Regions from separate parts of the Homo sapiens genome. Here region 1 is linked to region 2. Evidence: fine-mapped expression QTL. A gene starts in region 2. The other region holds a variant in brackets. All regions are shown on one strand. Distances are from middle to middle.

What was found. PIP is the estimated chance that this variant, and not a neighbour inherited with it, causes the effect.
Region 1: its variant is the best candidate, but not a certain one, in a credible set for the expression of PREP in whole blood (INTERVAL, PIP 0.67).

What each region holds. Positions count from the first base shown.
Region 1 is chr6:105,311,555-105,315,809 of GRCh38, forward strand. The region is part of intron 10 of PREP (prolyl endopeptidase); the gene reads right to left. Among named protein-coding and RNA genes, the nearest start is that of PREP-AS1, 35 kb to the left of the region's middle. The variant G/A (reference allele first, on the strand shown) is at 1,907.
Region 2 is chr6:105,400,632-105,404,886 of GRCh38, forward strand. It overlaps PREP (prolyl endopeptidase), which reads right to left and starts at 2,451. Exons shown (of 15, transcript NM_002726.5): 1 at 2,216-2,451. The coding sequence starts at 2,260. RefSeq lists a silencer at 2,159-2,728.

The DNA.
Region 1 (4,255 bases), 89 kb before region 2:
GTCTTTGTTTATTTCATGCACAGCTCTTCTCCCAACTTGCAATGCTGACATTTATTTTCTGTTCACTTGTTTTTGCCTGTATTTCTCATAAGGGCAAAGACAACATCTCTTCACGTCGCTGCTACATTCCCAGTGTTTACAACAATGCTTGGCACATGGCAAATTCTCAATAAAAACAAACTGACGGGATGAATGAAAGGGGTTCTTCCCCATCCCACCTCCACCCATCAATGCTGACAGAGAATTTCTGATGAAGGCAAGGAAAGGCAGCCATACATAGACATAAATGAATTGTAAATCCAAACAGGTGAGCTTTAGGAATCCCAGAACACTCCTTCGTTGCTCTTATTTCTAAGGATTCTGAGCAATGGTGTCAAAGCATTTCCAAACACAATCAAATCTGCAGATTCTTAAACAACATGCCATCCACAGTTCAGATTATACTCTTTCTAAGTCTCTTCCAAATACTTAAATTAGCTATATACATATTAAATTCTGGAATTGAATTAGATATATCCTAGGCAAAACAGAAAACTTGAGGCTCCAGATGTAGGTAGCACATATATAATGATTTTTTACTTGCAGGCTAAATGATTTTCTATTTGAAAGCCAATTTCACAATCACCCTCTACCTGAACTGAGATCAAAAAAGCATGCTGTTTAAAGACATGCTTGTATGCATATATTAATGTTTATGGCTACTTCTATACAGGCATATGTATACAAATGTACACACATAGAGGCTAGGAGGAAACAAAGAGTCATCTATTACTTGATTCAGAACTAACTGGTAGATGCTCTTAAAGACAGAATTAAAATGGGCTGCATTTGTCAATTCAGCCTGAGAAGATGGTTTAAATTTTTCTTTTGAGACATGAACCAACATAAATGATGAAGCTTTCTCTAGTGTCTTAACAAAGCCACAGTGTTTTATATCAATTTCTGCATGAAGACCCAGAACTAACTACCTCAGAGTACTCAACTGTTTAATTGTGACAGCCTGATCAGAGAAGCCAGCACCACTTCTCAGGGCAATTCAACTTTGAAGCAATGAGTTTATGTACGAAGAACATGAGCACACATCCATGCTGTATTTTCAACTAACAGCTGAATGTCCTCTTTCCCCGTCTTCTGCTTTACACTGAGCTCCCAGGGGCAGGAGCAAGAAGACAAGCTTCTACAGGACAGTTGGCGTTTGGATGAATATTGAAAGATGTGTGGAATTTCAGAAAATAGTAAAGAAAAATGAGCAGAACCAGGATGGGTCATGGAGAAACGAGGCAGAGGTGAGTCTGAGTATGGTGGTCCGGGGCTACGGGGCGGCACTGGGGCGCGGCTGTATGAAGAAGAGCATCAAAAGTTGTGTGGAGGAGCATGTACCCAACACAGACAATGACAAGGAACTTGCATGTGTTTCTATGAGGTACCCTCACAATGCCTTCCACTTCACAATATTTTACTACCATTTTTATAACTATGACAACATTTCTGTCTATATCTTACATTGAGTCAGCACAGAGGGTGAACAGAGAATAATCCAGTCTACCTCCCTAAAACCAGGTCAAGGTACACTTAATCCAAATCAAAAGACTACACTTGTGGAGATGGAAATTTTTTCCTCCCTCCTTCACAGACCAATGACAGTAATGCCAGTAATGGTTTTTCCTTTAGGGAGATAATGGAATATCCCCAGCACTGGGTCTATTTTTACTCACCCATCACCCGTCGACCATCAGTGTAACTCCAGGCAAAGCAAGTGGAGGGGAGGGGAGGGAAGAAATCTGTGTAGCAGGTGGACAGCCCACACGAAGCTCCTATTGTCTCTCCTCTCCTTTTGTTCTAAAACAGTATGGCAGAAAGCCAAAAACAGTTGAGTTTTGCTGGCAAACTAAAATGTTGCCCCGGG[G/A]GTTTAAGAAAAGCAGGAAAAGATTACCCCCAACTCTTTTCTGCCAAGCCTTCTCTAGGCAGAGCAAATCTAAACAATGATCACAGTTGTGTTTCTAGATGGCCTGCTAATCCTATTAATTGTCTACCATCACCTATTAGGGAGGCAGAAATAGGGTGAGAGACACTGGGACAGATGTAACCCTGCAGGTAGAAAAATCACCTGCTTTTATGAGTACAGAAGTGGCCATCCAGACTCACCGCACAAGGGGCAGAGGTCTTGGGCTACAATTTCCAAAACAGATCTGTGAATATTCTTCTGAATTTGAGTTAGAAGGTGGCTGGTGCCAGCGTTGGCATGAATGCCAATCCCTGAATATGATCCTGAGAGAAGTCAACCAGAGATAAGATGACAAAAGCAAAAGAGTAAATAAAGTTTTATTTTATTTCTGAATATATTTCAAGTGGGGGTTCAAGCTGCCACATGGTGACCAACACTAAGACTTAAATAAAAATCTAAGTGTGTGTCTATACAGGCACACCTCATAGATACTGTAGCTCAGGTCCAGGCCACTATAATAGAGCAAGTATCAAAAAAGAAGAAAGTCACACCCACTTCTGGTTTCCCAGTACATATAAAAGCTGTTTACACTAGTGTACAAAGCAATAGCATTATGTCTTAAAAAAAAGTACCTACCTTAATTTAAAAACACTTTATTGCTATAAAATGCTAATGATCATCTGGGTCTTCAGTGAGTTGTAATCTTTTTTCTGGTGGAGGGGTATCTTGCCTCAATGTTGATGACTGCTGATGATTGGGATGGTGGTTGCTGAAGGATGGGGTTGCTGTGGCAATTTCTTAAAACAACAATGAAGTTTGCCCACTGGTTGACTCCTCCTTTCATGAAAGACTTCTGTAACATGCAATGCTGTTTGATAGCATTTTGCTCACAGTAGAATTTCTTTCAAAACTGGTGTGAAGCCTCTCAAGCCCTGCCACTGATTTATCAACAAAGTTTATGGAATATTCTAAATTCTTTGTTGTCATTTCAACAATGTTCACAGCATCTCCAGCAGGAATAGATTCCATCTCAAGAAACCAATTTCTTTGCTCATTCACAAGAAGGCAACTCCTCATCCATTCAAATTTGGTCATTAGATTGCAGCAATTCAGTCACATCTTCAGACTCTACTTCTAATTCTAGATCTCTTGCTATTTCCACATCTGCAGTGACTTCCCCCATAGAGGTCCTGAATCCCTCAAAGTCATTCCTGAAGGGTGGAATCAACCTCTTCCAAACTCATGTTAATGTTGATATTTTGACCTCCTCCCATGAATCATAAATGTTCCTCATGGCATCTAGAATGGTGAATCCTGTCCAGAAGGGTTTCAATTTACTCTGCCCAGATCCATCCATTTGTAAGGCAACTACAGCCTTACAAATGTAGTCAAAATTACTCCTTCATCCATGGGCTGCAGAATGGATATTGTGTTAGCAGGTATAAACACAACATTCATCTCTTTGTACAGCTCCATCAGAGCTCTTGGGTGACTAGGTGCATTGTCAATGAGCAGTAAATATTTGGAAAGGAATTGTTCTAAGCAGTAGGTCTCAACAGTGTGCTTAACAGATTCAGTAAACCACTGTAAGCAGATGTGCTGTCATCCAGGCCATTTCTAGAGCACACGCAGAGTGAATTTAGCACAATTCTTTTTTTGTTTGTTTTTTCGTTTCTGTTGAAGAGACAAAGTCTTGCTCTGTCGCCCAGGCTGGAGTGCACTGGTGCAATCATGGCTCACTGAAGCCTTGAACCCCTGAGCTCAAGTGATCCTCCTGTCTCAGCCTCTTGAGAAGCTAGAACTACAGGCACATGCCACCATGCTTGGCTAATTTTTAAATTTTTTGTAGATAAATTTTGTATGGGATTGCACCACATTGCCAGGCTCATCTTGAGCTCCTGGCCCGAGAGTTCCTACTGCCTTGGTCTCCTAAAGCATTGGGATGACAGGCATGAGTCACTGTGCCCAGCTAATTTAGCACAATTCTTAAGGGCCCTAGGATTTTAAGAATGGTAAATGTGCACTAGCTTCAACTTAAAATCACCAGCTGCATTAGCCCCTAATAGAATCAACCTGTCCTTTGGAACTTTGGAACTTTGAAACTTTGGAACTTTGAAGCCAGGCAGACTTCTCTTTAGCTATGAAAGTCCTAGATGACATCTTCTTCCAACAGAAGGCTGTTCTGCCTATATTGAAAATGTTTTAGTACAGCCACCTTCATCAATTATTTTAGCTAGATCTTCAGGATAACTTGCTGCAGCTTCTACATCAGCACTTGCTGCTTCACCTTGAACTTTTATGTTGTGCAGA
Region 2 (4,255 bases):
ATCCTCTTCTATCAGAGTGTGAGTCCCCTGTGACAGGCCTGAATTTCCTGATAGCAACTCTCTTAAGCAATGGTCGATGGTATTGCACAAGAAGTGTCATGGCTTCCAAATTTCTGCCCAAAAAGGCAGAACTCCACCAAAATGGTCTCAACGCTCCAAAGCTTTCAGCAGGAGAGTACTGAGCATATGGCTGAAGGTGCTCAAGTGAAAGAGACAGAGAGCTACCGCAATGCCCAGCTGATGCTGGGGAGAAACAAACCCATCCTAGAAATCAAAGGCTACCATTTAAGCAAATACCTAAGTCAAGCCTAGGGCTTAGTAACCAAAACCTTAATGCAAAAAAAAAGATACTCCACCGTAAGCTATCAAGGAGCCACACAACAAGATCCAGACTGGGCCAGAGCTACATTCCCTTGGCCACGAGGCTTAGAGTTAGCATGAGTTGCTTAATGAGAAGGAACTGGAGTGTATTAAAATCCACAGTATACCCTTCCGAGTTGTTTATAATCTTTTAGACGTCTTCATAAAATCCTCACTTAAACCTTTCATGAAATATCAAACATAAATAAACAAACTGTAGGATTTAGGCACCCACAGTGGTGAAAAACTAACAAGTAACTCTAAAAACAAACTTAAAACTGCACTTATCAAACCACAGAATGGGTAATTCTTTATATTCTGATCCTCAAGAACCAGAACCAAGAGAGTCACCTGGCTTCCCATTACTAGTCTGGAACACTGCAGAGCTAGACTGTCACATGAATGAATGAATGAATGACAACATTCCTACTGCAGAAGCAAGTAAGCCCTATGGTCAGTCCAAATATTTCTCATATGAGAAAAAAGGCCCATAACAGGTAAAAGAGCTGCTAAAAGTCACCTAACTAGTGAATGACAGAACCAGAACTAGCGCTCTGGTCTTTTCATTTAGTCCAGCCTCTTTCTCCATTCCAGCAGGATCACTTTACTCCCATATTCAAAGGAAACAACCTTTAAACCACAGGAATAGAGCTTCTTGAGCTGTTAGGGTAAATTTAATAAGCAAGCAGCTGAGCAGACTGAGAAAACATGGTTACCAGATGGCCACTGGTCAAAGAAACCATGAATGAATGCATCAGTGTCACTTGGAAGTCTTAATTTAAAACAGTATGTCCTTTACTCCGAAGCGTCAGCACCCTTTACCCCAATGTAGCACGTGCTTTAAAGTAAACACTTTCTGGCATAAATTGGGAAAGTAAACAGAAAAACATTAAAACTGTATCACACAAATACATACTTATTCTGATTATATTTTAAGTAATCTGAGAAATGTAGCTATTAGTAAGAGAATCACGGCCACAACATGTGGATGCAATCCAGTTCCTAAGTCGTCAAATTCACGTTTACACAAAAAAGGTGTCTGCCCAGAATTCCGCCTACTGGATCTCAACAGTTACCTTGAGTTCATCTGCAGCTTAGGCAAATGGTGGTCAACTCCGCCACTAGACAAAACTTACTCATTCTGAAAAAGGTCAACCCCTCTCCCTTCTAAGACCTCCTCTCACCCTCTCTCAACTCCTTTTCTTGTTTAAGAAAACATGGATCAGCACGGCCACACTATGGGGTCACTGCTCCGCCTTCCCCATTTCTGTCCGGGTCTCTGGCATCCCCAGGGCCCAGTGCGCCTCATCCGACCTGGGACAGGGTAGGCGCTCAACACACCTTTTAAAATCGAACGAATATGCTTCAACTCTAAGGACTTTAAAGTGTAAGTTTTAAAAGTTTGTTTTCGTTTTTAAATGTGACATCACACACACACACACACACACACACACACAAACACACACACACACCCCAGCGGACACTTTCTCCTACCACCATATTTAAGCAAGAGGCTTCGCCAGTCAAAAAAGCAGTGACACCGTCTGTCTTCCCACTCCCTGAAGACACCCATTCTACCCGGGCGTCTGCCCTTGACCCCATTGATTCTAGGAAGCGGCCGGGCGGCGCTGCCCACAGGCTCCGCCGCCAGCACTAGCAGAGTGACCGCCCGCGGGACCCCAGCGCTGCAGAGGAGCCCCGCGCCCCCGGCCCAATTCTCCCAAACAAAGGCCGAGGGGGAGGGGAGGGACGCGGGGGTCGAAGGCCTACAGGAAGAGGAGCTGCGGGTGCCACGGGTCAGGCAGGCTGGGCACCTTTGCCCGGGAGCCCTCTGGGCGGAGGCAGAGATACTTACGGCGGTCTCGTCGCGGTACACGTCGGGGTACTGAAGGGACAGCATGGCCGGGGACAGGCAGGGGGCAGCGTGGAGGGGCGCGGGCTCCGGGAGCGGACCTGAGCTAGCCGGGCTGGCCGCGAGGCGCGGCTGGGGCGCAGGCAGCTGCGGGGCGGCCGGCGGCAGCGGGCGGCCGGCTCACGGCCAGAGCTAGCACAAACGGACTGGCGGCGCGGCGGCGAGGACGTGCAGAAAGCAGGAAGCCGCTGTCTGCGAGGCCGGGAGCCCCTCCCCGGCGGGCGGGCCCAGCGGCGGCGGCGGCGGCAAGAGGGAGCGGGCGGCACCGAGCGTGCGCTAAGGCCGGCGCACAGCTCCCTCTGCAGGATCGCCGGCCGCGCCCGCGCCGCCCGGGCGCACGGAGGAGCACGCCGGCTACGCGCTCGCCCACGCCCGGCCGCCCGCCCGTCCTCTGCGCCGGGGACAAGTCCTTCCACCGAGGCCGGGTCCCCGCGCCTTCCCTAGCGCCCTGCCTCTCTTTGGCCGCGCTCGCAGGACCGCCTGTAGGAGAGTGAAGCCCCAGGGTTTCCTTGCTGATGGAGTCCCCCACCTTCCCCAGCCTTCCTGTTCCCGGGCTGGTTACGGCGGCGAAGGGAGACCTTGCCTCTCCCCAGCCTTGGAAGCAGAGGGCTGGAGGTGGCCTTATGTCCACTGCCTGCGACTCTGGACTTGAAGGGAAGAAGTAATCGATCATGATGACCGTGAAAGAAACACGTCTCCCTTCATCCCAGGACCCCTGGTGGACACTGGGTGGTTTAGCATCCGGACTATGGAGATGCTTTGGAGGTGTTGGCAGGACTACGGTTGAGCCCTTATTTGATATTTACCGATTGAGAAAGAACCAAGATTAAGAGGCCTGGAACTCATCAGGGGTATTTTATTTATCCTGCCTTTTCCTCATTTCCTCTCCTGCTGTCATGCTTGTTTATTGAGCACCTACTGTTTATGGGAAGAAAAGATAATAGACAAGATACTTGACCTCAAACCCATGAAAATTTAATAGTTACATGTCATCATCCTCGGGCCAGCAGCGGTATGTGTTCTGGTCTTGCTTCCTGGACCACCCAGAAGAGACTTTATAGCCCCAGCCATCAGGGGTATAGTGTGTGCCCAGTGTGTTTTCTATCCCTGGCTTCCAAAAAGTCCTGGAAGAAAGAATAGGTGTGACCAGAAAGTCCTTCACCTCCGGAATCTAAGTGGATATGGTAACTATTATAAACTTGTGTCCTCCGTCTCTTTTGTGATATGGTCCCAATTCCATGCCTCACCCTTAGTTCACCATTTCTGTTCATAGTGATGTGTCATAATCATTTTCTGCATCTGATCCCAGATACCCCCTCCTGGGGCAATCTGAGAATCCTCAATTCTGGGAGAACTCACGCTATTGATAACAAACTTTGTGCAAACACGGGGGCATAGCCCACTACAGCCCAGAAGTCCCAATTCCAGTTCCCACCTCGTGCCTTCCCTGGCTGTCACCTGACGCAGGGACTGGCAGGCATTGTCTCCTCCTTCTGCCACTGTGAGGGATTTTTTAAAGAGCAACCCAGGAGCACTTGACCCAGCAGACCCCCTAATGATAATATTAATGCTTATGGAGTGTTTTTTTCAGTGTATCAGGAAACTATCTAGAACTAATGTCCCTATTTTATAGTTAAGGAAAACGGGCTGACTTTTGCCCAGGACTTCACAAAAAGTGAAAAAGTAGAGCCAGGATTCCAACCTAGGTCTCTCCAATACCAATGCTCATTCTTAACCACTCTGACGGCCTTCCTACTCATAAATAAGTAGAGATACTCTAGAGTCTACAGGGCACCCATTTGCAGGGAAAACTTCAATTTAGCAGGACCTAAAGAAAATGTGGGAATTGTGGTACCCAAAGGACAAATCAAACCTAGGTATCATCCTCTCTTCCCTTTCAGTCAGCCGTTCTGGTGCCCAGTTCCTCTGGGCCCTGAGAGGTAAAGGTTTGTAGTGGCACAGACAGTGCAAGAGGCTCCCAGC